Homo sapiens: one gene and its partners. The protein of the gene in region 2 purifies or fractionates together with the protein of the main gene of each other region. This does not show direct contact. Each region holds a gene or a part of one and is shown on either strand. Other genes may lie near its edges.

Region 1 (7,674 bases), on a different chromosome or scaffold from region 2:
GTTGAATTTTCAAAAATAATATGTAATTATATCCACAAAGATAACAATACTTAACACTTAGGAGTCAACAGCAAAAACCAGAAATTACCCTTGGTAGGTTAGGCAGAAAGGAATGTAATACAGGGAATTAGATCACCACAAAATTGTCGAAAGGCCTGGAGGAGTAACATCTAGGCTGATCTTCTGGGTACAACTGCTAAATCAAGCACCACAGTATGGACACACCAAGGAAGTATCTACCTCCACGACCTGGAAGCCAGGAACCAACCAGGAGGCCACGGTACTGTCAGCCCCAGGGACCTATCAACGCAGCCACAATCCATGATAACAAAATGAATGCTCTGTACCCTCCCACAGACCCATGAGGTAGTAGCTAAGTGGGAAGCGGAAAATCCAAACCCCTCTGTGTCCTTCCCCTCACTTTCCCCTTCCAAATCTCCCAGTCACGTGCCTGGCTAAAGCCAAGTCACGTTTACAACCAAACTACAGTGGGGTCTGGGAAAGGTAGTCTTTAGCTTTTTAACCTCCAGATGTAGATTCTTTTGCCCTTCTGTCAGGGAGATGACAAGTAGTGAAAAAGCAAGCAAAACAGCAAGAAGTAATAGGTCTGCATATTCCAGAAACAAAAAGGTCCTAAGGTAACTTCATGATCCAAAGATGAATATCCAAATGTCCATCAATATTGGTAACCAAATAAACATTAAATTAAACAATACGATAGCATATTAACTTCTCAAATTAGAAAATACCAGTGTTGCTGAGAGTATAGAGAAATAAGCAAAAATTTTGCATACTCTTTATTCTAGAAATGGTACCTTTCAGGAATTAAACGTCCATACCTATAATAAATATTTGGTTACAAGGATATTTATGTTACTTACAATAGCAAAAAAAAGAACCTAAATACCAAGAAGAGGGACTGTCTAAACTATGGTACATCCATATACTGAAAAACTGTAACCATTAAGAATGATGTTGAAGAAGACTGAATGATAAGGAAAAAAAGTTATGATTTCCCAAAAAAATGTACATGAAACTCCATTTTTCACCTTCCCCCTCCACCAGAAAGTAAAAGAAATTATACAGGATAGAGAACATGTTAACAGTAAGGAGATTATGGAGATTAATATTTATTTTCTTTATGCATAGGCTATTTCCCTGAATGTTTTACTGAAAATACGTACTACTTCTGTAACCAAACGAAAAAAAAGTAGTAAGAATTTTTTTAACCAACTCATGAAGAATAGTTTCTCATAACACTAGTTTATTCTGGTAAACAGAAATAGAAATTACAAGTTATAATATTCAGTAGCCATTCCTTTGACTCTGCTTTTCTATTTTCCTTCTCCACTACCAATTTATCCAAGTTGCCACATTTGCCTACTTAATTCTGAATTTACTCACTCCATTCCATCCACTCAAACTTGCAACCTCTTGTCTCCTCATTTTCACTAAAACACTTGCCCATATGTACGTTTCTCCTGGCATATTATCCACAGCTAAGTATCAACTGGCACACTTTTCTGAGCCCTCTCTCACACAAGTTCTTAAAGAACCATTCCCAACACTTGCAAGGAAATAGGCAAACCCACAAACATAAACTTTCGTTAAGATAAAGTCAAACATAAAAAGACCAGTCTACAAGCTCATACTTAAAACTGGATACATACTCCTTACAGCCACACATTCTTACAGACTCAGGGAATCAAGGAGAGAGGTCTTTCTCTTTCATGTCAGCGTCCTCTCCATTCAACTTCATCTTTCAGTCTTCTAAGCTGAACACAGAATTGCACCTTTTGTTTCATTCCTAGAATGACAAACCTTACTCTTTCGTGGTACTGAGCACTTAAATAAATTAGTTTATACTTTTAAATGCACTCTCACTAGTCTAAAACTCTAGGTAGGAAGGGTCCCTATTTGTTTTGCTCATCTTTGTAGCCAATGCCTAAGAATACGCTCCCAGTAGCATTCAATAAGTAATGAATAAACGACTGTATTATTACTGATGCATGATTCTGTCAATACAGTCAAAGCACACACTACGTTCCCAACTTATAAGTAAGGAAAACGAGGCTGGGGCGGTTCAGCGGCGAGTCAGCGCAGACCCAGGAGGAGAGCGGGGTCTCGGAGCTGCAGGAAGTACGGTCAGCCATGCAGCGGCAGGGCTGGGGGGCATGCAAGGTTCGCGCTTTGCAGACTCTCCGTAAGGGCTAGTGTCAATAAATCGAGTTACGTGCGGTGGTGAGCGGACAAGCTAAGTTGGCATATAGTACGTGGTTCAGTCAGTATTTATGAATGACTCAAGACACAAAAATAGCTTCATAAACAGTGCTTTGCTTGAGTTTGTCCGCTCACTACCGCACGTAACTCGATCCGGAGAATTAATCCGTGGCGAATTCTCCAATAACTGCGCGCGCACAGTAAACGGAGAAGCTGAAGCTGGGAGATGAGTTGATCGTTTTACAGAAGCAACCAATAAACTCCCCAGGCCGGGACCCAAACCCACCGGAACAGCAACTGGAAACCTACATCCTTGGTGCACCAGGCCGTCCAACTCTTCAGCGGAGGCCTGCAGGTGGCGCTGATCTCACCACGTTTCCCCTCCACAGGCCAGGGGCCAGGCCTGGCTACCGGGCCCGCGACCTCATTCATCTGGCGTCCGCCGGCCCCGCGCGCCGCGCAGGCGGGGGCCGTGGCCACCAAGCCCGGGCGCAGTTTCTCTCCGCCCACGGCAGGAGCGAAGGAAGGCCCTGGCGCGAGCGGGTAAACTGCCCACCGGGCGGCCCACCCGCTGCGCCCCCGGCCCGCAAGAGGCAGTCCCAATAGGTTGGCCCGCCTGGCCGAAGTCCGCCCGGAGCCCGCTCACCTGTCAGCCCCCACTGCCGTAAGTCCTGCTCCTGCACCCGCGCCGCCTCGGCTCGGCCCTCAGTATGAAGCCGCAGTAAGAAGCCAGGGGCTTGGCCCCCGCGGCTAGTAGCGCCCGCGCGCTCCATCGGGCCGGTAGAGGCCCCGCCCCGCGCGGCCAAGCGCGCACCTCCCTCCCAACTTCCCAACGCGCGGGGGCGCGCGACTGCGCGCTGGGGCCCACCTACGAGCGAGGCGCCGCCAGAGGGCGCGTCCTGCCAAGATATCCGGAGCGGAGCTGGTGCAGTCACCCTTCCGGACAGGCAGTTCTTGCAGTGCGGAGCGTGGAAGGGCTGCCCAGTTCTCACCAGTCGTGCTTCTGAAGCGCTAGGCGTCTGATCACGCACAGGACGTCTGATTGCCTGAACTGCCCGTCAAGGAGGTGGCATGTGTTCATCATTCATTTATTATTTAATCAACATCGACTATCATGTGTCAGACACTCCGCTGGGCCCTGGGGGTTCTAGAAGTAAGACTTGTTCCGTGCCCTCCAGTGATTCACGATAAGATCAAACTGTTCTTGTTCGGTTTACCTAGTGATAAATTGATTTAGTCCCTGAAATCCCTTTCTTACTGCCTGTGACCTGTAGGCCAAAATTGGGAACCTCTGAATAGTAGTAAATTAAAATCACCAAAGACGTCATTGTGGCAGTGGGTATCTCAAGTGCATTATGGGGAGCAGATTGAGGCAATGTGTTCAGTTAGGGGTCACCGTGACTCAGCATCAGCTTTGAGTGGATTTATGATGTAGTATACCACTAATATAAATATGATAATAACAAAATAGCTGCATTTATTGATGAAGTTCTGGGTGGTGTCCTAAGGGCTTTAAGTATATTTTCTTATTTAACCTTCACAATAACCAATAATTAGGTGTTATAATTGTCCCCACATTGTAAATGAAGATATTGGGACTTGTAATGGTAATTGGCAGTACTGGAACAGGAACGATATTATTCTCTGGCTAATGTCATTAGAATAGTATTCTCATTTAGGTTAATCTTGGTGCTTCCTTCTTCAGTAAACTCATGTTAAATTTGTACCCTCCATTCTCATCTTCCTCTAAAATAAAAGGGAGAAATTTGTTCTGAGCTAGAAAAGGGATGACTTCAGATTGGTTTATTCATAAAAACTCAAGCAAAGCACTGTTTTATGAAGCTATTTTTGTGTCTTGAGTCATTCATAAATACTGACTTTCATGCGCGTCCGTGTGAAGAGACCACCAAACAGGCTTTGTGTGAGCAATAAAGCTGTTTATTTCACCTGGGTGCAGGTGGGCTGAGTCCGAAAAGAGTCAGCGAAGGGAGATAGGGGTGGGGTCGTTTTATAAGATTTGGGTAGGTAAAGGAAAATTACAGTCAAAGGGGGTTTGTTCTGTGGCGGGCAGGAGTGAGAGGTCACAAGGTGCTCGGTAGGGGAGCTTTTTGAGCCAGGATGAACCAGGAAAAGGACTTTCACAAGGTAATGTCATTACTTAAGGCAAAGACGGGCCATTTAAACTTCTTTTGTGGTGGAATGTCATCAGTTAAGGCAGGAACCAGCCATCTGGATGTGTACGTGCAGGTCACAGGGGATATGATGGCTTAGCTTGGGCTCAGAGGCCTGACACTGACTGAATTACATACTATGTGCCAAGCACTCTATGGTACTGAAGATAGAGGCCACTTATCTCCTGGATCTTACATTTTAAAAGGAGGAGACAAGCAATAAATAAAAATCAGGTAGTGAAGGGGTGGCCTGCCCCTCCACACTTGTGGGTATTTCTCGTCGGGTGGAATGAGAGACTTAAGAAAAAAAAGAGACACAGAGACAAAGTATAGAGAAAGAAAAGTGGGCCCAGGGAACCGGCGCTCAGCATACAGAGGACCTGCGCTGGCACCAGCCTCAGTTCCCTTAGTATTTATTGATCATTATCGGGCATTTCTCAGAGAGTGGGATGTGGCAGGACAATAGGGTAATAGTGGAGAGACGGTCAGCATGAAAACATGTGAACAAATGTCTCTGCATCATAAACAAGGTAAAGAAAAAAGTCCTGTGCTTTTGATGTGCATACACATAAACATCTCAATGCCTTAAAGAGCAGTATTGCTGCCCACATGTCCCACCTCCAGGCCTAAGGTGGTTTTCTCCTATCTCAGTCAATGGAATATACAATCGGGTTTTACACCGAGACATTCCATTGCCCAGGGATGAGCAGGAGACAGATGCCTTCCTCTTATCTCAACTGCAAAGAGGCCTTCCTTTCTCTTTTACTAATCCTCCTCAGCACAGACCCTTTATGGGTGTCAGGCTGGGGGACGGTCAGGTCTTTCCCTTCCCACAAGGCCATATTTCAGGCTATCACATGGGGAGAAACCTTGGACAATAACTGGCTTTCCTAGGCAGAGGTCCCTGCGGCCTTCCGCAGTGTATTGTGTCTCTGGGTACTTGAGATTAGGGAGTGGACTCTTAACAAGCATGCTGCCTTCAAGCATTTGTTTAACAAAGCACATCCTGCACAGCCCTGAATCCATTTAACCTTGAGTGGACACAGCCCATGTTTCAGGGAGCACAGGGTTGGGGGTAGGGTTACAGATTAACAGCATCTCAAGGCAGAAGAATTTTTCTTAGAACAGACCAAAATGGAGTCTCTTATTTCTACTTCTTTCTACACAGACACAGTAGCAGTCTGAGCTCTCTTTCTTTTCCCCACAAGGTAGGATTAATGCTAAGACAAAAGTAAAACACAATCGCATAATGGGGCAATAGTAATTTTGTACAGCAGCTTTCCTGCTTGGGTGTTTTCTCAAAACAAACCTGAAGAGAGATTTATATCCTTTGGTGGCTTCTCCAGAGGGACCTCTGTCCTATGTGGCTGCTCATGAGTGGTTTTTGCATCTTGGTCTCCATGTATGACTTATTTCCTCTCCTCTAGATTCTACCAGTAGACTTATCTGCTAAAGCAGCCATATCAAGCACTTGCCACTTAAATATAAGCCTGTTTATTATTTTTAACTTAAAGTACATTTGTTGTAACAGAATACCAGATGATAGAGTCCTAGCTATAAGCCAGGTAGACTGTTGGTATACTAAGTCTGGTACCTAAAATACAGCTAAGAAAGGTAGCTGAGAGACTCCAGGTCTGCCAGTGAGGTGACACATAGAAAAGTTTTGCTCTGAATACTGTATGAAGAGATCTGTAGATGATCAGGATGGAAGGAAGGAGGCAGTTTGGAAACTATTGCAGTAGTCTGGGCAAGAGTTGATAGTTTTGGGGCCAGCATGGTGATAGTGGAGTGGTGAGTAGTGGTCTGCTACTAGATCTATTGAAAAGATAGAGCCTATAGGATTCACTGATTGAGCATCTGGGAGAAATGAAGAAGCAAAGGTTGGGTTCAGGGATGTGGCCCGAGCAACTGGTGGGATGTGTTGGATTTGTACAAACAGTGCTGGGCACATAGTGTTGTACTTGAGCGAGTTAGAGAGAACGCCACACTTTGAGACGAATTAAGAGTCTGTTTATTTAGCCAGCGGCTGAGAGATGGCTAACGCTCAAAGTTCTCTTGGCCCTGAAGAAGGGGCTAGATTTTCTTTTATACTTTGGTTTAGAAAGGGGAGGGGGGGTCTAGTTAAAACAATTTTCCAGAAGTAAAGTAGGCAGAAAGTTAAAAGGATAAATGATTACCAGAAAGTAAACAGTTCTAGGTGCAGGGGCTTTAAGACTCTTACAAACTGATAGACGTGGGGCTTTGGGCGTTATCAATTGGACGAATTCCTGGGAACTGCGGATATTGCTCGCCACAGTATTTTATCAGTTAATTGAATTCTTGGATGTTCTGGGAGTCAGCTTGCACAAGTTATGTCTTTGAGGAAGGGGCTGCCAGTGAAAGAGCCAAGATGAAGTCTGTCTGGCTCTCTTAGCTAAGGGACAGTCAATTCAGGTGGAAACAAGGCTAGGTGATTAAAGGAAAGAGAGAATCTAAAAACAGGGTTAGTAAAAACAAGGTTAGGCATTACAATAGTATGCCCTCAATAAATATTGTTGAATGTTTGAATGAGGTGCCTGTGGAACAATTTTAAAATCTAGGGCATATGATTGTTATAACTTTGAAGTACAGAGAGTGCATTTCACAGATGGGCAAACCAAGGCACAGAAAGTTTAGGAAGCTGGTCCAGTGTTTTCTGTGAGTCGTGATTAACTCCCAGAATAAAATTTAGCCTCAACTCATTTTTCATTCATTGTTCAGGTTATACAATCATGCTGTTTTTGTTAATTGTTTTATTCCTCCACAGAAAGGATATGTCCTTTGGCAACAGCAACTCCATAAGATTAATGCTAACCAACTAACACTGTCAGTGGGACTTAGCATGTGCAGACATTACCAAAACAAGCATGGATTAAGCACAGATTAAGAAACAAATTATGTTTGCTGTTTGTTGTATCCTTGCTCTGTTAGGTAACATCAGGGCACCAGTTAGAAGCACCTAGTGAGTCAGATACGGAAATTGGATAAAAGCTGTGACCAAAGTAAACATTTATTCAGACCTCTTGAGTAAATGAACTTGGAACTTTGAGCTTAGGTTAGAATTAGGTCCGTGCCCATGGGTGGAAGATTTTTGTGCTGGGATGAAAAACACTTAACTTGGGTTTTCTTTCTTGCAAGAAATGAAAAACTGTGTTTTGACTTTTGATGCCAGTATACCTCTTTGTCATGAAATAACATGTAATAAATTTAGAACCCAGAAAGCCAGGGAAAATATACCACAGTATAGAAGTATAGAAAAAAAGTA
Region 2 (7,814 bases):
AAAAGTGCTCTAGCAGCCTCCAGGAGCTCCCAGAACACCCTTTGCTCCTCCAAACTTAGATGAGCCAGTGACTTTCTGCAGTTACTGATTTCAAGGTATCTTCATCTTTCTTTTTTGGTTCCTCCAGTTTTCTAACACTTTCACCACCATTTCACTACATTAGAGTCTCTGTCTGAAATACTTAAGGTGGTTTTTGTTTTCCAAAGAGAATCTTGCTTGACAAACTTCTGTGAAAATACTTCAAACTTTTAGGTTATAATTATATTAAACTGATACAGGAAAATGTGACATTGCAAAACATAGTTGCTGCCTTGATGACCTTAAGCAATTTCCTTTATGTGATGGAGTACATTGTTTAAGGGACTATTTTGTTAAAATAATAAGCTAGCTTAAAAAACCTCCACTGTTAAAATACAGCATTTATTCTTATCTTTTAATACTATGGTCAATGAAAGGTTATGTCATTTAATGAAACAAGCATGGACTTTGGAGACATCAGAGCTACTACTGTCAATATAAGACATCTAAAAATTAATAAATACATATTATATACATACAACCAGGTTAGGAAATAAATGCATCGTTGACTTTATAGTCAAACTATAAAGTTTAACTCAGTGACTCTTGGGGCTATTTTCTAGCCATACATTATCCTAATTCAGTTGTAATGTCTGTGGGCAACGCAGGAACATTAAGAACCATTAGAAGAGAAAGCATTGATAATCACAGTAGGTAAAAGAAAAACACAAGCTAAACTGGCTAGTGTACTATTATTTGCAAAGGAGTTCTACTAGAAAATAATATACTGTTTGATTACTGTAAGTAGAACATCAAATGATAGGACAGAAACCAACCTATGTATCAGCTCTGGAAACAAAGTTTTTAATTAAAATAAACAAAGTTTGCTTTCCAAAGCTTCCTCTTGGTTTGATTTCCATTCATCTGCTAGCTATAATGACTGGTACATTCCTGAATCTGGTTTGTTCTGTTTCCAGGCATATGAGAAAGTTGTGTCCACAGCTATCAGATGGTTGCCGGCATGTGAAAAGGGAAGAAATTTAACTTAGAGTTGGTAAGCAAAATAGCCCCAGACAAGCATTCTTATTTGGTCTCAGGACCCTTTGACAGTGCTAATTTATAGAAGACCCCAAAAAACTTTTATGAGCTAATCAATATTTACCAAATTAAAAGTTGAAATTGAGAATGGTTTACAATATATACTAATTCATTTAAAAATGACTCATTGTATTAACATACTTTATTAAAAAAAAAAACACTACATTTTCCAAAACAAAGCTAACTGAATGAAAGAAGAGTGCAGTTTTACTTTTTTTTTTTTTTTACATCGTTTTAATGACTGGTTTAATAGATATAGTCAAATTCTCATATCTGCTTCTATAATCAATCTATTGCTACATCACATACCATGTAGCTTCTGGAAAACTCCACTGTACATTTGAGAGTGCAAGTAAACAAAGCAACTAGAGTCTTAGTATTATTATAAGAACAATTTTCCCTCAGACACTCTGCAAGAGTCAAAGGACCCCTATGGGTCACTAGATAACACTTGGAACACCGCCGCCCTAAACTAGCCACGAGTGGTTTCAACGTACATTCTATTGTAACACATCATTTTCTCATGCATTTTCATGGATGTCTTCAGATATTAAGTAAACAAAAAAAAATGCTTTGATCCTTAAGTAAAACAAATAACATTGGACAATTTTTGAGTGTTGGAAGGATAAATGGAGAAGAGTAGGTGCCTGGAGATGTGTGGTATTCAGCAAAGTATTTTGTAAGTTGTGGGAAATAGACAATAAGCTATAAGCAAACAGGCAACTGGGTAATTCCTAGCAGTCAGCTGCAACTTCTTTACCTTTGATTCAATGAAGCAAAATGGAATCCCAGTGACAGTAACATTATTACAGAAATACATTGAAACTGTTAGGCTCTGATTTATTTAAGCAAATAATTTGAAGTTTTGGTACTTAAAATTACTGGAAACCAGTTACTCTTAATTACTGGAAACCAGCACTCTGACAATGTTGAGAGGTGCTGTCCTGTGTTATTCAAAGATATAAACTTCTATCTTTCTTTCAAGTGGCTGATGGAGGTAGGGTGTATAGTATTCCATGCATTCAATTCTGCTTTTCATATGCAACTACTGAAAAATGAGAAGTTCACTTTTATTCATATATATATACAAATGGGGATATATTCATATATATATATAAATGGAGATATATATATATTCATATATATATATAAATGGGGATATATATACACACTCACATACACAAATGTGGTTTTTGGGGTTTTTTTGAGACGGAGTCTTGCTCTGTTGCAGTGCAGGCTGGAGTGCAGTGACACGATCTCGGGCAACTTCCGCCTCCCAGGTTCAAGCGATTCTCCTGCCTCAGCCTCCCGAGTAGCTGGGATTACAGGCGCGTGCCACCATGCCCAGCTAATTTTTTTGTGTTTTTAGTAGAGACAGGGTTTCACTGTGTTAGCCACGGTGGTCTTGATCTACTGACCTCGTGATCCGCCCACTTCGGCCTCCTAAAGTCCTGGGATTACAGGCGTGAGCTACTGCCCGGCCATGTGTGTATTCATTCATTCATTCATTCATTTACTCATTCATGTAACACATATTTACAGAGAACCTCTTTAAGTGTGTCAGGCACTATTCCTGGCAGTTGAGATACAAAACAGAACACACATTCCTGGCCTCCTGTGTCTTGCGTCCTAATGTGATGAGAAATATGATGAAGATTAGTAAGTAAAATAAATTATCCATTACACTGTGATAAGTATTAAAAAGTAAAGGAGGAAATATGAAATATTGGGAATGGAAACATCATGACTTAAAATATGCTGACAAGTAGAGGGACTGACTGAAGAGTTGGACATCTGAGCACATATGGAGGGAGCATGATGGGGAAGAGTGTTCTAAGCAGAGGAAACCACAACTGCAAAGACTATGAGGTTGGCAGCTTGTGGAGAGCTTTCTGGGAATACAAAGCTGGGTAAACAGTCTGTGGGGTCAAAGAGGTAATGAGGGGAGGATTTTAAAGCCATCGTTAGGACTTTGGTTTTTACTTGTGTTGGGAAGCCACAGGAGACTTTGAGCAAAGGAGTGGTACGATCTCACTTCTTTTTAAGTAGATTTATTTAGGATTCTGTATTAAGGATAGAGTCAAAAGACTAGTTCCTGGTCTACCGTAACACTATAATCCAAACAAGAGATGATGCAGATTGTAGCGGAGGTGGTAAGTAGTTGGATATACTTTGAAGGAAGAGCCAACAGGTTATATGCCAAATGCATATAAGACATAAAAGAGAGGAGTTAAAGGTGGGTTTGAACAAGGAAAGATGCAACCATTTACTGAAATACAAAGACCTTGGGTATGAGTGAGAAGGGGTTGAACTAGCTGACATCTTACAGTCTGTGCCTGGATTCAAATCTCAGCTGTGTGTGTCTCTCTCTCTGTAAAATGGGAATAATAATAGTGCCTACCTCATAGTTTATTATGAGAATTAAGTGGGTATATATGAATAAAGCACTTAGAGCAACACCTGGCACATTGTTAGTTAATATTAGCATTACCTCTTCAAGCTGGAATCTTCGAGTACATATCAAATTTTAGCTATTCTCTGTTCATGGGCTGTGTAGGATAGAGGGACAAAACTGAGTGGCTAATAAGAAGATAAAGATAGAAAACTAAGCTTAAAGTTAAAGGATATACACTTCAATATTTCTACATGTATGGAACAGTATTGCATACACGCGCAAGCATCACTGAACTAGATGCACCCTTCAAGAGATTGGGTTACATATTGATATATATGAATGAGAACCCTGAAATAAACTGATTTCAGAGGAATAACAGAAAACATATACATTTCTATACCTATAAGGACACTGAAAACTTCCAATCCTGAATCAAACAGTTAATGAAATCCCAAAATGCAACACTAATGCAAATGAGAAGACGCTGTCATAGAATGTTGAAATACATACTCTTCTAAAGATAAAAGGTCTGCTCTTCCACCCTCTTCATTTTCCTACAAATTAGGAAAATTTAATCAGTTCTGAAAAAGGAAATGTACATGCTAAAATGGTGAATTACTGCTAGAGTTCTGATGTTTAAAACCACAGGCTTGCGATCAAAATAACCTCTTTAATTTTAGATTATCATGCAGATTAATTTCTTCAGTTTCTCAGGCACTATTCTGTTTTTTTTAAAAAAAGGGTGGGGTTTCAAAAGAAAACTAATACTCATTTTTTCCCCGATTAAATTGCTCAACCATTAAAAAGGAGAACAAATTGGAAAGTCCTACAGTACTCTCTCCCCTCCGTCCCCCCCCTCCCCATTTTTTTTCTTGAAAGGGAACAAGCAGTACTTTTGCTAAGGGATCTTTAAGCCGAAACTCAGCTAGGCGCCCCAGAGCTTCCTCAGGATAGCAAAGCTGGATTTTTGAGCAGCACCACCTGCTGGTCCTACACACGTTTTACTTCCTCCACCCCAAATCTCTTTCTGTTGGAACTGCACTCTTTCAGAGCCTCTGGGCCCTAATACAAAGCAAGCACACTCTAAAGAAGCCAGAAGAATGCAAGCAGCGAAGTCGCCGCTCCCCACAGGCAAGAGAGTACCGGCAGACAGCGGCGCGAGACAGGGGCAGAACGATGAGGCGCCGGAGTTAGCTCGCCGGTGCGGGTGCGGGTGCGCGGCGCGTCGCGGCCCCTCCTCCGCGACGCGCCGGGTGGTCACGTGACGGCCGCGCGCGTTCCCGGCAGCTGCGGGCTCCGAGGCCAGAGAGAAAAGACTGCGAGGTGGCCGCAGCTGTGGCCGGAGAGGTGGGAGTCGGAGCGAGGCCCTCTCGGGGGAGCAGGGTGAACGCCGGCCACTCTAGGATCCTCACTCGGGGAGAGGAGGCATAGCTCGCGGTGTCACCTCCAGCCGCAACGTACTCCGGGTCGGCCTTGCGCTCGGGGCCTGAGAGGGGCGGCGGCGGGGTCAGGGGCCGGTACGTAGATGGACGCCCTTGGGCTGGCGCGGCCCCGGCTGTCCGCGCAGAGGCGGGATGGGACAGTTCAGCCCTTTCCGCCACCCCCGCCTTGGCTGCTGGGGCAGGCAAGACGACCGTGACAGCCCCTGCGCTGCCCGAGGGCGCCGCAGCCCCTGCCCTGGGTGACGGCCGGAGCTGGTCTCGGTCCGGGTGCGAGGGGCGGAGCAGCGGCCATTACTGCGCAGCCTCTTCCGCCTGAGCCCGCTTCGCTGCCTCGGGTGGCAGGCGGGTCCCTCTCCTCCCCTCTGGGCCGTGGTTTTAGGCCTTTACCCGGGGACCTTCTGGCCTCGAGGTGTAGGGGCGGCGATGGTTTTTCGGCGGTAGCCTGCTCCATGTTTTCCCGTGTGGGGTCAGACAGTTTGGGCCTTGGGTCAGATCGAAGCCAGGGCGTACAGTCTGCATTTTTGCCTTTTCCCGGAGTGTCTCTGGCTGCTGCTTTCTCTTCTCTCGCTCTTCCTCCTTTTTTTTCTCCTGCTCAGTGTCTCGGTCTTGCCTAAAACGAAGAGAGCAATCCCTGCACCTTGTCCTAGTGAAGCCCAGCGCTGCATATTCTTAGTTGTTTTTGACGGCTGTTGAAGCATCGGAACAATTAAGAGATCTCAGAATATCCCTTGAGCCTCCAAACCCTCTGCATCTTAAAAGCTGAGGCTGTTGCTTTGTTCTGATTGTTGGGTGGGGAGTTCTCTTCCTACCCTCCATCCCGTCTGAAGGAGTGTGGGTCTTCCATTGTTGTCGCTATTTATTTTGCTAAGGCTTCTAAAGAATGTAAAATTGTTTTAAGAGTGGAGACGGAACCGTCCTCTCCACAGGTAAAACCTACAGGACTGTAAGTTTACACACACATCCTGGCAACTAGAATCTTTTCTCGTTAATCATATTGGTATATGTTTTAATTTATTTTCTCTAAGTGCCATTTTAGTGAGCACTTATTTCTCAAGTTTTGAACATTTTGTTTAATATTTTTGTAATATCGAAACAGTGTAGAACTGAGGAGAGAAGAAAGCCCAAAGATGATAGGGTACGCTTTGTTCTTTGTATGATTGGCATTTCAGGTAGTGGGCACATCCCCCCCACCTCGTGTGTGTACTTTTCAAATGGGATGTGAACGTATAATATTGGCATTCAATCCAGTATATAATTATAGAATTTGGAAGACTTAGGACATTTTAGTCAGTGAATCTATATTTAGACTTTTCAAAGACATGGCACGTAAGGACACGTGGAGAAAATGTCCCACACAGATAACAGGATTTGTGATTTTGGCTTTGCTGTTTTATGATTAGCAAATATTGTTTGTATAGAGTGTCTGGGTGCCCTAAAAACACATGAAAATAGGTCAACTAAATCTCGTTTTAAAGAGAAAACCGGAAGAGTGAACACCACTCTAAAAATAGATTTTGGATGTGTTTGTTTTGGTGCCTTGTATATCTTAAAGTGGAGGATGTTGTTCAGCCCAATCTTTCATTTAGAATTTATGTCTCAAATGAGCCAGTGTATCATGTGGGCAGACTGGAAATACATTTAAATATTTTTTTTCTTCGCTGGTTGTTCAGAACTTGGTAGAATTATAATTATCAGGAAAACTCTCTCCAAATAGCTGGTCTTTTAGACAAGAGAAGAAAAAAGAAATAACTTCTTTTAAAAGGAGATGTCAACTTACAAAGTGTTTTGTTTCAGTCTCCACCAACCTAACTTGTCAGAGGAAAGGAACAGACTTTTTTTTTTAAAGGATCCAAAACGATATTTTGAGTCAAAAGAAGAAAAGGATATTAAATCTTTTGTTTTCACAATATCGATCTTTTTAAAGAATATTATTTTATATGTTAACCATATACTACCAGGAAACATCTAACAGCACTGACAGTTGGGAATTCGAATGCGTATTTTTCTCCCGTGTTAGTAATAGAAGGTACTGAGCCTTTTCCATTCTCTTGGTTGCCTTGTGCCTGAGGAATCTGAATTTGTGAAACAACATCTTTGTGGATATAGAAACTAATTTATGTAACACTTGGCTACAACCACCTGTGCTTACTTACGGACTATCTTTAGTTTTCATGGCGTGTTACCTTTTGGGTTAATTCAAATCCAAAATGTTGTTAACGGACTGCTAATTAAAGCATTTAGAACTTAGAATTACAGAATTATAGAGTAGGATGAGATAACAAAAGACTGGGGGTTATGACTTGACCAAGGTCACACAGATAATTTGCCAAAGAGCTTTCTTATTTATGAAATGGTTGCTGGCTAAGAAACATCTGTGTGTGATATGATTAAAAGACAATATTCGTTCACTTTTACATCTCATGTTTTGAAATAAAATGCAAAGCTCACTTTTTTGTTGTTTTGAGAAAAATTAAAGGGTTTAATGGGCTAGTATAAAGATTGTGAAGGCAGTAAGTAGACTGCCACATAGTAACGTCTTAAAGGGAAATAATTCTTTAAAGTATCAGACCCCATTTAGTTGAAATGAGTTTTGTCTGAAGTTTCCAAGTATGACCTATGCTTTTTCTTAGCTAATTTTTAGCAGGAGATGATGAGGGCTAAAAATTGAGACATTAGGGCATTTAGTTACATCTCTCAATTTGTGACTGGTTTATAAAAAATACTAAGATGTGTCTGCTAACTCACACCTGATTTATCTACTCCTTTTATGTATATATAATTTTTTTTGAGTTGTGTACCAAAAGTTGGAACATTTCAAGTATTTTTTCTTTCTGTCACTGAGTGATTTCATGTAGAACATT
Region 3 (7,246 bases), on a different chromosome or scaffold from region 2:
TTTTTTAGACAGGGTCTTACCCTATTGCCCACACTGGAGTGAAGCAGGGGAATTGCTTGAAACCCGGAGGCAGAGGTTGCAGTGAGCTGAGATCACACCACTGCACTCCATCTGTAAAAATAAAGTAATTCTAGATAACGTGATGTCTTATCAGAAAATACTATAGCATGCTTTTTTTAAAGAACTTTTTTTTTCCTTTTGAGAAAGGGTCTTACTCTATCACCCAGGCTGGAGTACAGTGGCATGATCACAGCTCACAGCAGCCTTGACCTCTCAGGCTCAAGTGATAAATTATACAGCTAATTTTTGCACTTTTTGTAGAGTCGGGTTTCGCCATGTTGACCAGGCTGGTCTTGAACTCCTGGGCTCAAGCAATCCTCCTGCCTGAAGTTCTGACTGCTGAGATTACAGGCATGAGCCCCCACACCTACCCTAAAGGACATTTTAAAATCATAACTAGAATATCATTATTTTAAACCTAACTAGAATACCATTATAATATCTAATAAATAATTCCCTAAAATCATCCAATTTCCAGTCCATATCCACATATCCCCATTTATTGCTGGCTTGTTCAAACCAGCATCCAAACATTGCATTTGGCTGTTAGGCTTCAAATGTCTCTTTTACTCTAAAACAGTCCTAACAATTTTTTTTTTACATAATAGTATGAAGAGAGTAGGCCAGTTGTCCTGTCGAATATTAATTTGTATTTTTCATACTATGTGAGCCTGAATATCTTTTCCATGCACTTATTTATCAAATGCAAACTGTTTATTAATATCTTTCATCCACTTATCTATAGAGGTTTTGGTTTTAATTATGAAAATAAATTTGTTGGTTTCTTCCAGGCTTTTTTTGTTTTTGTTTTTCAGACAGAGTCTCGCTCTCGTCACCTAGGCTGGAGTGCAGTGGTGCGATCTTGGCTCACTGCAACCTCCGCCTCCCCAGTTCAAGCTTCTCCTGCCTCAGCCTCCTGAGTAGCTAGGATTACAGGCACCCACCACCATGCCCAGCTAATTTTGTGCTAGAGAGGGGGTTTCACCATGTTGGCCAGGCTGGTCTCGAACTCCTCACCTCAGGTGATCCGCCTGCCTTGGCCTCCCAAAGAGGTGGGATTACAGGCATGAGCCACCGCACCCAGCCGGTTTCTTCCAGTTATTGGTGACATGCTTCAGTACTATTTTAGTTACACTTGTTCTGTATTTGACTATAAAGAAGTTATATCTTCACAATATATTTTCAGTAATTCTCACTCTGACCACCATAATAACTAAAAAAGAAAAAGAATCAATAAAAACTTTAAAAATACATTTTTAAAAATGTGTGTGGGATGGTAACTACTGTCATGAAACAGAATACATTAGCCTAGTAGATAACAACATAATTTGGAGTCACCCAGATCTGGCCCTGCCTTTTAGGAACTGTATATTATGAGCTGAATTGTGTCACCTCAAAATGTATGTATTTGAAGAACTCTCATTATCTCAGAATCTGCCTGTATTTGGAGATAGGACATGTAAAGGGGTAATTAAGATAAAATAAGGTCATACGGGTTGGGAATAATCCAATATCACTGATGTCCTTATAAGAAAAGGAGATTAAGGGCCAGGCACCGTGGCTCACGCCTATAATCCCAGCATTTTGGGAGGCTGAGGCGGGTGGATCACTTGAGGTCAGGAGTTTGAGACCAGCCTGGCCAACATGGTGAAACCCTGTCTCTAATAAAAATACAAAAATTAGCCAGGTGTGGTAGCCCACGCCTATAGTCCCAGCTACTCAGGGGACTGAGGCAGGAGAATCGCTCAAGAACCTGGGAGGTGGAGGTTGCAGTGAGCCGAGATCTTGCCACTGCACTCCAGCCTGGGCAACAGAGCAAGACTCTGTCTCAAAAAATAAATAAATAAATAAAATAAAGGAGATTAGGACATAGATGCACAGAGAGGAAAGACAGCATCCATCTACAAGCCAAGGAGAGAGGGAGGCAGGCCTTAGAAGAAATCAGCCATGTCAAGACCTTTACCTTGGGCCTCTAGCCGCCAGAATTACGACAATGTATGTAGTTATAGCAGCCCTAGCAATACACTGTGTGATCTTGAATAAATTAAATTTTTCTAAAGCTCAGTTTCCTCAACTATAAATGGAGATAATAACATATGCCTCATGAGGTTGTTGTGAGAATTAAATAATGTATGTAAAGCTCATAGCATAGTAAGAACTAAATAAATTCTGGCTATTATTCTTATGAAGATTAAATGAGGTTATGCATGTAAAGCATTAGCTCAGCCTCTAGTACACAAGAAAGTTCTACTAAGTATTAGCTATTTTTAATAAATTTTCATTTCATAAAGGCTTATATTTTTCCTATCTCCAAAGTATTTCCTTTTAGACCTAGTCTAATTTATTTGTGTCATAATTAAGTCAGATGTAACAGGCTTTGTACCGCTGAAACAGGTTAAGCAATCCTATCCAACAACATTTATTGAGCACTTACATTTTGTTAGATTTATTTCCAACTACTTGATATGCTTTGGTGTTATTGTAAATGCTACCTTATCCAAAAATTTTATTTATAGTTGTTTGAAGCTCTTTTATAAGCATGGAATTTATTTTCACACGCTATTTTCTATCAGTCTTGCTAGGCTTTGTATTAAGGTAAAATTTTTATCCTGTAGTTTCTTCTAGCTTTTAAAATATTCATAATCAAATTACATGCAAATAATGAGATTTTGGGTTTTTTCTTTCTAAACTTTACATCTTTTGATGAACAAAAATTAAAATGTATCAATTTTTTTTTCTTTGTTTTTTTCAGACGGAGTCTCACTCTGTCACCCAGGCTGGAGTTCAGTGGCGGGATCTCGGCTCACTGCAACCTCCGCCTCCCGGGTTCAAGCGACTCTCGTGCCTCAGCCTCCCAAGTAGCTGGGATTACAGGCGCCCGCGACCACGCCTGGCTAATTTTTCACTTTTTTTTTTTTTTTTTTTGTAATAGAGACGAGGTTTCGCTATTTTGCTCAGGTTGCTCTATAACAGATACTATGCTATCCTAACAATATGTTTCTAAATGATATTAGTGCCAAAACCAGGATTACCCAGTGATTTTGTTAATACAGGCTTATTGAATCGGAGGGTCTGGGGTGGGGAATTTGCTTAAGTATGCAGTCCCCATACTCGGTGATTCTCATGAAGCCAAACATTTGGGCGCCCCTCACCTGATGTCACCAAGAACCAGAAGACCAATTAGAATTTTCGTGGGCTTCCTGCCCCATGGTTCCCTCTGTTCCCAAAGGGTTTCTGCAGTTTCACGGAGCTTTTCACATTCCACTCGGTTTTTTTTTTTTTGAGACTCGCTCTGTCGCCCAGGCTGGAATGCAGTGGCGCGATCTCGGCTCACTGCAAGCTCCGCCTCCCGGGTTCACGCCATTCTGCTTCAGCCTCCCAAGTAGCTGGGATTATAGGCGCCCGCCACCACGCCCGGCTAATGGCTAATTTTTTGTATTTTTTTTTTTTAGTAGAGATGGGGGGGGGTTTCACCGTGTTAGCCTGGATGGTCTCGACCTCCTGACCTTGTGATCCGCCCGCCTCGGCCTCCCAAAGTGCTGGGATTATAGGCGTGAACCACCGCGCCCGGCCCGGTTTCGTTTTGTTTTTTTTTTTTTTTTTTTTTTCCAAAAATGGGCGGAGGAGAGTAGTCTGAATTGGGTTATGAGGTCCCCTGCGGGGTACCTCACCTCAGCCATTGAACTCACTTCGCTGGCCGTGAGTCTGTTCCAAGCTCCGGCAAAGGAGGCATCCGCCGGGCCCCTCCCCGAAGGGCGGGGTCCACGGCATCTCCTGCCCAGTCTGACCTCGCGCGGAGCCCCGTTCTCTGGGAACTCACCTCCCCGAAGCTCAGGGAGAGCCCTGTTAGGGCCGCCTCTGGCCCTAGTCTCAGACCTTCCCAAGGGACATGGGAGTGGAGTGACAGGACGCACTCAGCTCGTGGCCCCACTGATGAGCTTCCCTCCGCCCTATGGGAAAAAGTGGTCTCATACAGAACTTATAAGATTCCCAAATCCAAAGACATTTCACGTTTATGGTGATTTCCCAGAACACATAGCGACATGCAAATATTGCAGGGCGCCACTCCCCTGTCCCTCACAGCCATCTTCCTGCCAGGGCGCACGCGCGCTGGGTGTTCCCGCCTAGTGACACTGGGCCCGCGATTCCTTGGAGCGGGTTGATGACGTCAGCGTTCGAATTCCATGGCGGCGCGGCGGCGACGGAGCACCGGCGGCGGCAGGGCGAGAGGTTCGGAGCTCAATATCGCGGGACGGCATGCGGGGGGCGGGCAGTCAGAAAGGAACGATGCCACCTACTGTGACCCCCTTCCCCTTCCAGCTCCCTATAACCTGCACTTGGCTACCAAACCAGTTGGGGTGCTAAATTTTGTAAATTTCGGTTTTCAGAGCTTTGGGGATTACATAATTGTGCATAAAGCCTTGCGGAGCTGTAACAACTAATGTGCCAGTACTGTTGTTAATACCTAATGTCATCCAATTTACAAAAAGTAATTGTAAGGCACACCATTATTTTATACACAACAAAGGATAAGCACTGAAAATGGTGAACTGTGATTCACTGCTTATGTCATCCATTGTAAGATGCATCCCAGTTCCAGAGAGTAAAATGCGAGTCTTAGACCTATTGAGATACGGTATTATGTGTATAATGTTCTTAAATGCATAGGTGCACCCTATAAATTAGGTTCTATTGTACTTCTCTAGAAGTACAGTATTGTACAATATTCTAATATTGGAGTAAGTGAAGTAGGAAGAGATCAAATACTTCTCCAAGTTTCCACAGAGAAAAGCAGCAGAGCTAGGCTCTAAATTAGGCACAGACCCTTGAGCACTTAACTAACCTTTATCCCATACGGCCTCATGTATGAGGTGGGTATTTGGGGGACATTGGGACACAAGTAAAACAGATAAGCAGGCCTCAATCTATGAGCTTACAAGACTCCTGGGACTCCCTTTTATTTTGTTTTATTTCATTTGGCTAGAATAGCAATTTAGGAAGAATTACACAGACTGTTACACAAAAGTAGTGTGGGACAGTTGTTATTGCCTCTGTAAACTTAGAAAATTATCTTAAACCGGCGGGGTGAGGTGGCTCACGCCTGTAATCCCTTGGGAGGCCGAGGAGGGCAGATCACTTGAGGTCACGAGTTCGAGACCAGCCTGGCCAACATGGTGAAACCCTGTCTCTACTAAAAATACAAAAATTAACTGGGCATGGTGGTGCACGCCTGTAATCCCAGCTACTCAGGAGGCTGAGGCACGAGAATCACTTGAACCCAGGAGGCGGAGGTTGCAGTGAGCCAAGATCGCACCACTGCAGTCCAGCCTGGGCGAGAGAGTGAGACTCCACCTCAAAACAAAAAAAGAGAGAAAATTATCTTAAACCATTTCTTTAAAAGATTTTTTTCAATCTTTAAAATCTACACGTATTCGGGTGTGTACTCATTCTTTGCTAATTTCCAAATTCTGTAGCATTAAATGAAAGCAAAAGAGTTAATAATGGCAACACGGCTCCAGAAGACTCTTCCCCTGCCAAGAAAACTCGTAGATGCCAGAGACAGGAGTCGAAAAAGATGCCTGTGGCTGGAGGAAAAGCTAATAAGGACAGGACAGAAGACAAGCAAGATGGTATGCCAGGAAGGTCATGGGCCAGCAAAAGGGTCTCTGGTAGGAGTGGATCTGGGGATGATATCTTGTTATTTCAACTCCTATTTCGTCCTTCTTTCAGGGAATAATTAATTTCTCTATCCTTTGGGCATACCACAGCACTAATCTACTGCCTTGAATCTTCATTTTCATGTATTTGAGATGGATTGGGGTCTAAGGAAAGACCAGGATTGGTTGGGCGGGCAAAGTTAATCCTGACAAGTTTCTGTTTTACCACAACAGCTGTTTTTGATTCCCATAAAGTAGTACCTATCTGTCTTTCCTCAGAATCTGTGAAGGCCTTGCTGTTAAAGGGCAAAGCTCCTGTGGACCCAGAGTGTACAGCCAAGGTGGGGAAGGTAAGAGACTCTGGAACCGATCTTCAGTCCATGGATATCTCAGAGAGCATCCTTTGTTATAAGGACTCCTGTCTGGGATGCTGTTAGTACTCATTTTAGGAATCCTCTCCAAAATATGATGAGTGAGTAGTTTTCTCTAATGGCAAGAGATAGGAGTGGTAGGGCTTGGGGTTAATAATCAGGGTGTTTTTTAACATGGTGTGTTAGACCATTCTTGCATTGCTGTAAAGAAATACCTGAGACTAGGTATTTTATAAGAAAAGAGGTTCCTAGAGGCTGTACAGGAAGCATAGCAGTATCTGCTCCTCAGGAGACCTTAGGAAACTTTTACTCATGGCAGAAGGTGAAGCGGGAATAGGCACGTCACATGGCAAAAGCAGGGGAGAGAGAGAGAGACAGAGAGAAAGGGAGAGAGAGAGATTGGAGAAGGTGTCACAGAGAGAGAAAGAGAGAATGGGGAGGTGTCACACGCTTTTAAACTACCAAATCTTGTGTGAATTCACTCACTATCAAGAGGACAGCAGCAAGACAGTGGTGCTAAACCATTCATGAGAAATCCACTTCCATGATTGAATCACTTCCCACCAGGCCCCACCTCCAGTACTGAGGATTACAATTCAGCATGAGATTTGGAAGGAGACAAATATACAAACTATATCACATGCGTACCTTTTGTGGTTGCCATCAGCCTTCTACACCTCATTCTCTTTTTAAACCAGAAAATGGTATCATTGTTAAGGGAAAACTGTTTTCTTGTTCTAATGAGAAACTGTACCCTGGAATGGCATGAGTTACTGATGAATGGGGAAAAAAGAAGGCTACCTCTGGAATAAGTTTTCTTTAACTCAGTTAGAATCTTTTTTTTTTTTTTTTTTTTTTTTGAGATAGAGTCTCACTCGGTCACCCAGGCTGGAGTGCAGTGGTGTGATCTCAGCTCACTGCATCCTCCACTTCCTAGGTTCAAGTAATTCTCTTGCCTCAGCCTCCCAAGTAGCTGTGATTACAGGTGCCCACCACCACGCCCAGCCTGGGCTAATTTTTATATTTTTAGTAGAGACGGGGCTTCACCATGTTGGCCAAGCTGGTCTCGAATGCCTGACCTCAAGTGATCTGCCCACCTTAGCCTCCCGAAATGCTGGGATTGCAGGCATGAGCCACCATGCGCAGCCTAACTCAGAA
Region 4 (7,021 bases), on a different chromosome or scaffold from region 2:
TCCTAGTTCTACTTCATCAAGCGAGCCAAGGGAGAACTGGCCTGTAGCCCAGATTGTATAAATTCTGGTCCCACTTGAAATACGACTCCAACTCTCATTTTTTATCCCCTGCACCCTGCTTTGCCCCGATCCCAAGGCCAACCCCGGGGTAGGCAGGCTGAGACAGGCCTTGGGACCCAAACCCCAAATCCTACCCCCACCAATTCCTTCCCTCTCTACTTCCTTCTCCTTCCCCAATCAAGGATGTGGCTGTTGCAGGAGGAACAGGGGTAGAGATACATTTCTAAGTGAGGAAAGGGCTGATACTGGTTTCTCAGGCACAAGCATATGGATGCAGCTAAGTCAAGACTGCTAATTCTCTCCAAGATGGTCCCACCCATGGCCTCCCCTATAATCCGGAGCTTCCTGTTGTCAGTCTCTTCTGAAATCAAAACCTCTGAGCTGAAAACCATCTGCCTTATGCCCCCAGGGGTGCCACTGGAGCCCCTAGGGGTGCCATTGGAGAAATAAACTGAAACCCCATATGCTCACAGTCTATTTCTCTGCAATAGTCCATTTTGCTTTAGTAGAGAAACTTCTTTGGGGGTTTGGGTTTCTTCTGTGACTTAAGCTCTCAGAGAAGAGATGGAGTCAACACATGGGCTCTTTCTTACACTGAATGGGGAACTGATCATGTAGCAATTGTGCTTCCTCTCAGCTCCCTCTTGCCATTGCCTTTGGCAAGCTCCTGAGCACAAACGTATGTGCCAGCTGGTTCCCTGTACCCTCCTTTCCAACCTGAAGCCCCCATCTTCCTCACCCAGGAAATGAAAACAGATTCCTGGCAGTTTCTGGGTTTAAAGATGCTAGCCAACTCACCTGTCCATCAAGCTGACATCATTAAAGTAGATACAATCAAAAACAAACAGGCAGACATTAGCATCCTGGAAGGCTGCTTTCTGTAAGGGAAAATGAGGTAGTAGGTACACATAGGACAAAAGTCAGTGTGAAAAAATAAGGAGTACCAGTCCACTTCTGGAGGCCCCCTGAGGCACCGGATGAAAAAGTACTATTTCTGCTCTGAAGCCCCTGGGCCATAAGGGCACTGAGCAGATAGTGCTAAATGGAAACCAACCCAGTTATAAACTGGTTCCCAATACCAGCCCCTTTTTAGGAGAAAAACAAAAGACAAAAATCCAAACCAGAAACAGGTCAGAAGCGAAGAATAAGGGCCACACTAAGGGATATTTCCTCCCTTTTCAGACCGCAGCGTGCACCCACATGTACATACTCACTCACACTCATTCATTCTTGCACATATGGCCCTGAGCTAGTACCTTGTGTACTCCCAGAGTCCCAAAGGGCAGTGGTTTGCCTGTCTTGTTGTCAATCAGAAGCACTTCAGAATCCAAGATCATGCTGTGGCCCCCAGGAAAAGCCTGGGGAATGTAGTCCTTAAAGTGGGCCACCTGAAAGCAGAAGGGGAGCTTTGGTGAGGGATGACATGGCAGCAGGGACCTCAAACCATGCCATGGAGGGCAAAGCCCGGGCCCAGACAGGATATAGAACAACATGTGGAAGGCCCAGCTAATGTGCAAAACATATAGCTAGGCCTTGCGAGCCACCTGGACAAGAGGGAGAGGCCATCTGTTTCAGTACTTCTGTCCGGGCCCAGGAAGAGGTCAACCCATGCTGGGTCACTTTCTATGGGCTGTAGAGAAGGTACAATTTTTGAGGAAAATGGAAGAAACAGATTAAACCTGTCGGGGGAGGAGGAGGAGGGTAGGTGGGCAGAGATTAGTGCCTACTGCAGAAGATGTGTGACTATCAGGCTGGGGACTGGATTAGGGGAGAACAGACTACTTGAAACCAGAAAGGTAGAAATGAACTCCCTCAGGTGCAGCAAGGAAACTTGAGCAGTGTCTTCTCTGAGTGGGAGCCCTGAACCCACAGCCATCACTACCCAGGATGCTTAGAGCAGGAACAGGAAAGGCCAGCACATCCATGCCATTCCCCTTCAATCCCTAACCTAGCCCTTTAAGAACCCAAATCACAGGAGAGGCAAAGGATGAGTGAATACTGGGTAAGGGAAAATTAAGGAAAGGACTAAATCTGGAAAAGTGTGCTCAGACTTCTTCCTGGGTCACAGATGGTGTCTATTTAACACCAACCTCACCAGAAACAGCTCCTGAGTGATTTGCAGTGCTTCACAGAACACGTGAACCTGCATTAAAGCTCCACAATGAGGCCACTGCTTAGCCTTCCTCTTGAACATATGAAACAAATGGCCTGACTGCTTTGTTCCCAATGCTCCAGCAGGAAGGCAAGGCTGAGGTAAGCACAGGCCACACAACATGTTCCCCTGAACCCCCTGAGGCTCTGAAAAACTGAGTCTGAGTTAGGAAAGAAAAGGATAGCAAAGATAGGAATTCCATCTGCTCACAAGCTACCGGAGCCAGATGTTCCAGCTGCTTTTCCCTGAAGACACTCCCAAAGGCTCACAGTATCCTTGGGAGTGGAGAAGGGCTAAGGAATAAGGTTCCAAATGCCACCCCTGATTAGAACAGGAATCTAGGCTCCTAGATGTCCCCATAAGACTGTGTTTACATCAGAATGTAAACTTCATGGTGGCCAGAACTTTTGTCCATTTTTTCCACTGCTATATCCCCACCAGCTGTAACAATGGGTAAGCATCTGATAAATAATTGTTGAACAAATTAATGAATGACAGCCCAATAGCCCCTGGTATATAAGCCTTAGTCTAGCTCACAGGAAGCATCTGGGACATGGAAACACAAAAGACACACAGCAACTCACCAACTGAGCTCACTGTCCCAATATCACTGTGGGCAAAAGAAGTATCACTGTTCCAGGGAGCTCTATCCTCACGAACCCAAGTCAGGGCTCTTTGGCTCTCCCTGCTGAGCAGCCCTTCATTATGGGAAGACTCCAAAAATGAATAAATGAATTAATTCATTCAACAAATAAAAAACAAACCCTTATTGTGTACCACAGCTGGAATGGCTATGGGACTCTGGCCCTGAGGTTGTTAGAGGCAGAAAGGGGAAAGACGGTCCTGGCAGAAAGGAAGGCACTCATACCTTGTGAGGAAGGACGGGCTTGAGACTGCGGCTGAAGTAGCTGAAGTGGTCTCCATTCTTATGCACCTGGACTCGCTCTCCATCGTACTTGATCTCAGAGAACATGCCATTGGGACATTTCTTCATTGCATACTCAACGGACTTGCAGGCCTCCGCCTTGGGGTGGGGAAAGCAAAGCCTGGAGACTTTCAATGAGGGGCTGCTAAGCAGCGACAGCCAGAGACCTTGCAACTGGGTTAGTGAGGGTAGTTACCTGGGTCTTGGGACTGACTGCCCACAATTAACGCTCAGGGAAGGCTGGTGAAGAGGTGATGGGAACGGAAAGGGCTGGGCAATGTTGTATTCTGCCTATGAAATAATCACCTGAGCTGACATAGGAGCTTGCCTTTTGAGGAATATGAATGCTATTCATTGTACAACAAGTAAAAGCCCAGTGAAACAAGATTTAATTCTTTTCTCAATAATTCAGGCCTTGCAAGACCTCTGGCTTATTATAAAACACATCAGTTCTCCCAGTAAAAGAGGTATGTGAAGCTAAGGTTAAAGAGTGCAGGTGACAGTGAGGCTGGCAGGGTGAGTGATCGTGGGTCCCTACAACAAACAGGGTTTCCAGATATTGGAGCACCTACTTACATGCCTACCTGTGCTAGCCTAACTCAAACAACAATAGCTACCATTTTGGGAGCGCTTCACATACATAATCTCATTTCATCCCCGATGTGACATCCTATGTGACAAATATTGTTTTCATTTTTGGATGATAAAACTGAAGGTTAGAGAGAATAGGTGCTTGCTTAAGTTACACTAAAAAATGGCAAGAATGAGATTTGAATCTAGGCCCACCTATAAAACCTGTGTGGTTAACCACTAAGCTATATAACCCATGCCAGTCTTTAAATGACAAACTATAGAACAGACTCCAGGAGGCATTTTTATAAAAGTCAGAAAGGCCACTACTGCAGGTGGCCGCAGTCCCATCTCTGGGATGGAGATCTCACTGTTTTGATGCTGGCTATCCCACATTCCTAGCAGGGAGAGAACACTTGCCTATCTCAAACATAAAACCCTAAACCAAGGTTTTAGTATGACAAACAAGACAGTTTCAAAAAAAGCACTGTACATCACTCAAAAATCCAAAGAATCTCACAGTAGGCATGGCACCATATGTGGTGGGCCCTGTCACACAGGAAAACCAACACTGGAAAGGAAACCCCATTTCTTACGAAATGAGCAGAGGCCTAAGATGATGTCTGTCAGAGTCAGCCTTCATTCCTTATGTGTCCTCCCTCTTCCCAAGTCACCCTGTCACAGGAAGCCTGGCTCTGCTACCAACTCTCAGATCTACTTTGCAGTAGGTCACAGAATCTCAGGGGTTACTTAATACATCCGTCTTCAGGTAAGATAACAGATAAATCATTCTAGGGGGATGCCTCAGGCAGTCTCAGACGTCATCCACACAGGAGACTGAAGGACAAGAGAGGCAAGTCACTCATCTAAGATTCTACAGCATCTTGGTGGCGTAGCTGGGCCTACAACTCAGGTCTTTCCACTAGATCCTCTGTCTTCTCCTTTGCCTTCGCCTCCTACAGAGAAATACCCCCTTGCACCTCCCTCTTCCTTCCCTAAACTTCTCCAGTCAATTTGCAAGTGCTCTCAACACTCATACCCTATCTGATCTCAGCCCAAAGGATGTGGAGCTTGGAGAGGCTGGAAAGCAGAGGCAGGGGAGCACTCCTCACCAACATGGGCTGCACAGGTGTCATCAGCGAGGCCTGGACGCTCAGAGCTCGTCTCTGGCCCGGCTCCTTCTCCACCTCCTGCGCGTTGTGAAGGACCCGCTCCACCACATCCTGCAGGTTGCGCGAGGCTTTGAAGGCTTCATAGGCATTGGGGTCAAGGGCGTCTAACCTGCCAAGGGGTACAGGAACAAGGAAACAAAACCACTGCCTTTGTTTGACTCCATGGCTTTGGACAGCAATCTGTCCTCACAGAAGAAATCCTCATCTGTAGGGAAGGGGTTGTGTTCTATTGTCTAAAGACTTTCACAAGAGGAGAGAAAGCTCTTGGAAAATTCAGCTCTTTTGAGATACTGTGCCTATGTGGATGCCGCCTTAGCGAGGAGGGGGCTGGAGTAGGCAAGAGACTCATACTATACTCACTGAACGTATGCCACACTTCAACTGTAAGAACTCTGTGAGAAAGGTACTGTTATCTCCATTTTATATGGGAAAAAATGGAGGCAGAGACAGGTCAAGTGACAGATCAGGGTCTCACAGAAAGTAAGAAGGTGGAAGGGGGATTCAAATCCTGACTGGGACTCAAAAGTCCTGACACCAGTTGGGAACAAACAAAGCTAACAAATGACAGCTCAGGCTGTCAGCGGAGCTGCTACTTACACATGTTTTGCACCTGAGTTCATCTTCAGATCATGTTTGATCAACCTGATGATGCATTTAAGGTCATTGGCTGTACACCTAGGGGGATGAAGCACATTTAACTTGGTCTTGAAGAGCTCTGGAACCCCAAGGGAACCTTCCCTTCCCAAGAGAGTTCATCTCTCTATGGGCATGGTTTGACGGAGGCAGCTCCCCCACCTGGAGGCAATGTCCTGTAGGGCCTGTTGCTGCTCATCCTCCTTGGTGAGCTTGGACAGCCGCAGAAGGAACTCATCCACTTCCTGGATGGTAAGGAGGCTCTTGGCAGCTGGGGGGAAAGACTTGCTCTGCTCAAAGAAGACTCTGATTGTCTCTGACACGTCACCCTGTCTCCAAAAACCAAAATGCCACTGCTGCAACCCTAGGGTGGCCAAGTGTATCCCCCAAGACCCAGGACTGAAGATGAATCAAGAAATTTCAATCATAGCTCCTATCCCAACTCAACATATCTAGCCCACTTCTTAGAGACACTAGCCCATCCACAATTCCTAGAAGGGGATGGAAACTTGCCATGGTACCAGGGATAGAGTCACGGACAAACCAAAGCTTGGTAAAGCCAAGTTATAGGAGAAAACAAGCAAGAAAAAAAGAGTCCAGAATAAAAGCCCCAGGAGAGACAGAGGGGGCAAGTCTCAAATTCTGCCTTTTGAGAACCAGGCCTTTGTGGTTCAGCAGTTGTATGGTTTCCACCCTCAGAAACTTAAGAAATTAAGAGCTATAGCCTCACATTCAGCTCCCCCTATAACGGAAGCTTGCTCAAATGGGTTTCAGTTTCCTAAAACAGTATGTGTCCCAACCAGAAAAAAAAAAAGAGGCTGCAGGTGCCTGGCTTGGCAAAACCCCACCTGGAATGTAGCCTACCCTCCCTCCCGTTCCTCTGACCTGCTCTAGGTCCCGTGCCATATCATCTGGGTTGCAGTTAAAAATGCGACTGAAAAGCTTCACAATCTGCTTATCGTTCAAGTTGTAAACAGTCTTAATGACTCCTGGCAGCAGCAGCTTCACTGTTAGGTACACATCACCGTGGAAACCATCTGGAGACAGAAGGAACCCTTCTTGAGAAATAGAGCTTAAACAAATAAATATATAAACTCAAAGAAGGCTGGGCAAGGTGGCTCACACCTGTAATCTCAGCACTTTGGGAGGCCGAAGCAGGAGAATTGCTTAAGCTCACAAGTTTGAGACCACCCTGGCAACAAAGAAAGACCCCATCTCTACAAAAAATTAAAAAATTAGCTGGACATGGTGGCATATGCCTATGGTTCCAGCTACTTGCAGGAGAAGACAGGAGGGTTGCTTTAGCTCAGGAGGTCGAGGCTATAGTGAGCTGTGATCACACCACTGTACTCCAGCCTGGGCGACAGAGCAAGACACTGTCTCACACACACACACAAAAATAAATAAAAAAATAAACTCAGACCGCGCATGGTGGCTCACGCCTGTGATCCCAGCACTTTAGCAGGTTGAGGTAGGCAGATTAATTGAATCCAGGAGTTTGAGACCAAC

What was found.
Region 1: the proteins of RNF146 (region 2) and CHD1L purify together in Homo sapiens (co-immunoprecipitation; 5 studies listed by BioGRID and IntAct, with this or other methods). This does not show direct contact.
Region 3: the proteins of RNF146 (region 2) and PARP2 purify together in Homo sapiens (affinity purification with mass spectrometry; 6 studies listed by BioGRID and IntAct, with this or other methods). This does not show direct contact.
Region 4: the proteins of RNF146 (region 2) and LIG3 purify together in Homo sapiens (co-immunoprecipitation; 5 studies listed by BioGRID and IntAct, with this or other methods). This does not show direct contact.

What each region holds. Positions count from the first base shown.
Region 1 is NC_000001.11:147,238,023-147,245,696, reverse strand, and holds the start of CHD1L (chromodomain-helicase-DNA-binding protein 1-like), read right to left. Parts: upstream 3,014-7,674; 5' UTR 2,994-3,013; coding exon 2,867-2,993; intron 2,558-2,866; exon of another isoform or gene 2,507-2,557; intron 1-2,506. UniProt on the Homo sapiens protein: ATP-dependent chromatin remodeler that mediates chromatin-remodeling following DNA damage.
Region 2 is NC_000006.12:127,262,068-127,269,881, forward strand, and holds the start of RNF146 (E3 ubiquitin-protein ligase RNF146), read left to right. Parts: upstream 1-4,796; 5' UTR 4,797-4,858; exon of another isoform or gene 4,859-5,028; intron 5,029-7,814. UniProt on the Homo sapiens protein: E3 ubiquitin-protein ligase that specifically binds poly-ADP-ribosylated (PARsylated) proteins and mediates their ubiquitination and subsequent degradation. May regulate many important biological processes, such as cell survival and DNA damage response.
Region 3 is NC_000014.9:20,339,398-20,346,643, forward strand, and holds the start of PARP2 (poly [ADP-ribose] polymerase 2), read left to right. Parts: upstream 1-4,237; 5' UTR 4,238-4,244; coding exon 4,245-4,290; intron 4,291-5,534; coding exon 5,535-5,690; coding exon of another isoform or gene 5,691-5,729; intron 5,730-5,996; coding exon 5,997-6,067; intron 6,068-7,246. UniProt on the Homo sapiens protein: Poly-ADP-ribosyltransferase that mediates poly-ADP-ribosylation of proteins and plays a key role in DNA repair.
Region 4 is NC_000017.11:34,990,491-34,997,511, reverse strand, and holds part of LIG3 (DNA ligase 3 isoform alpha precursor), read right to left. Parts: intron 6,550-7,021; coding exon 6,398-6,549; intron 5,842-6,397; coding exon 5,675-5,841; intron 5,555-5,674; coding exon 5,477-5,554; intron 4,989-5,476; coding exon 4,820-4,988; intron 3,237-4,819; coding exon 3,081-3,236; intron 1,449-3,080; coding exon 1,317-1,448; intron 939-1,316; coding exon 859-938; intron 1-858. UniProt on the Homo sapiens protein: Isoform 3 functions as a heterodimer with DNA-repair protein XRCC1 in the nucleus and can correct defective DNA strand-break repair and sister chromatid exchange following treatment with ionizing radiation and alkylating agents.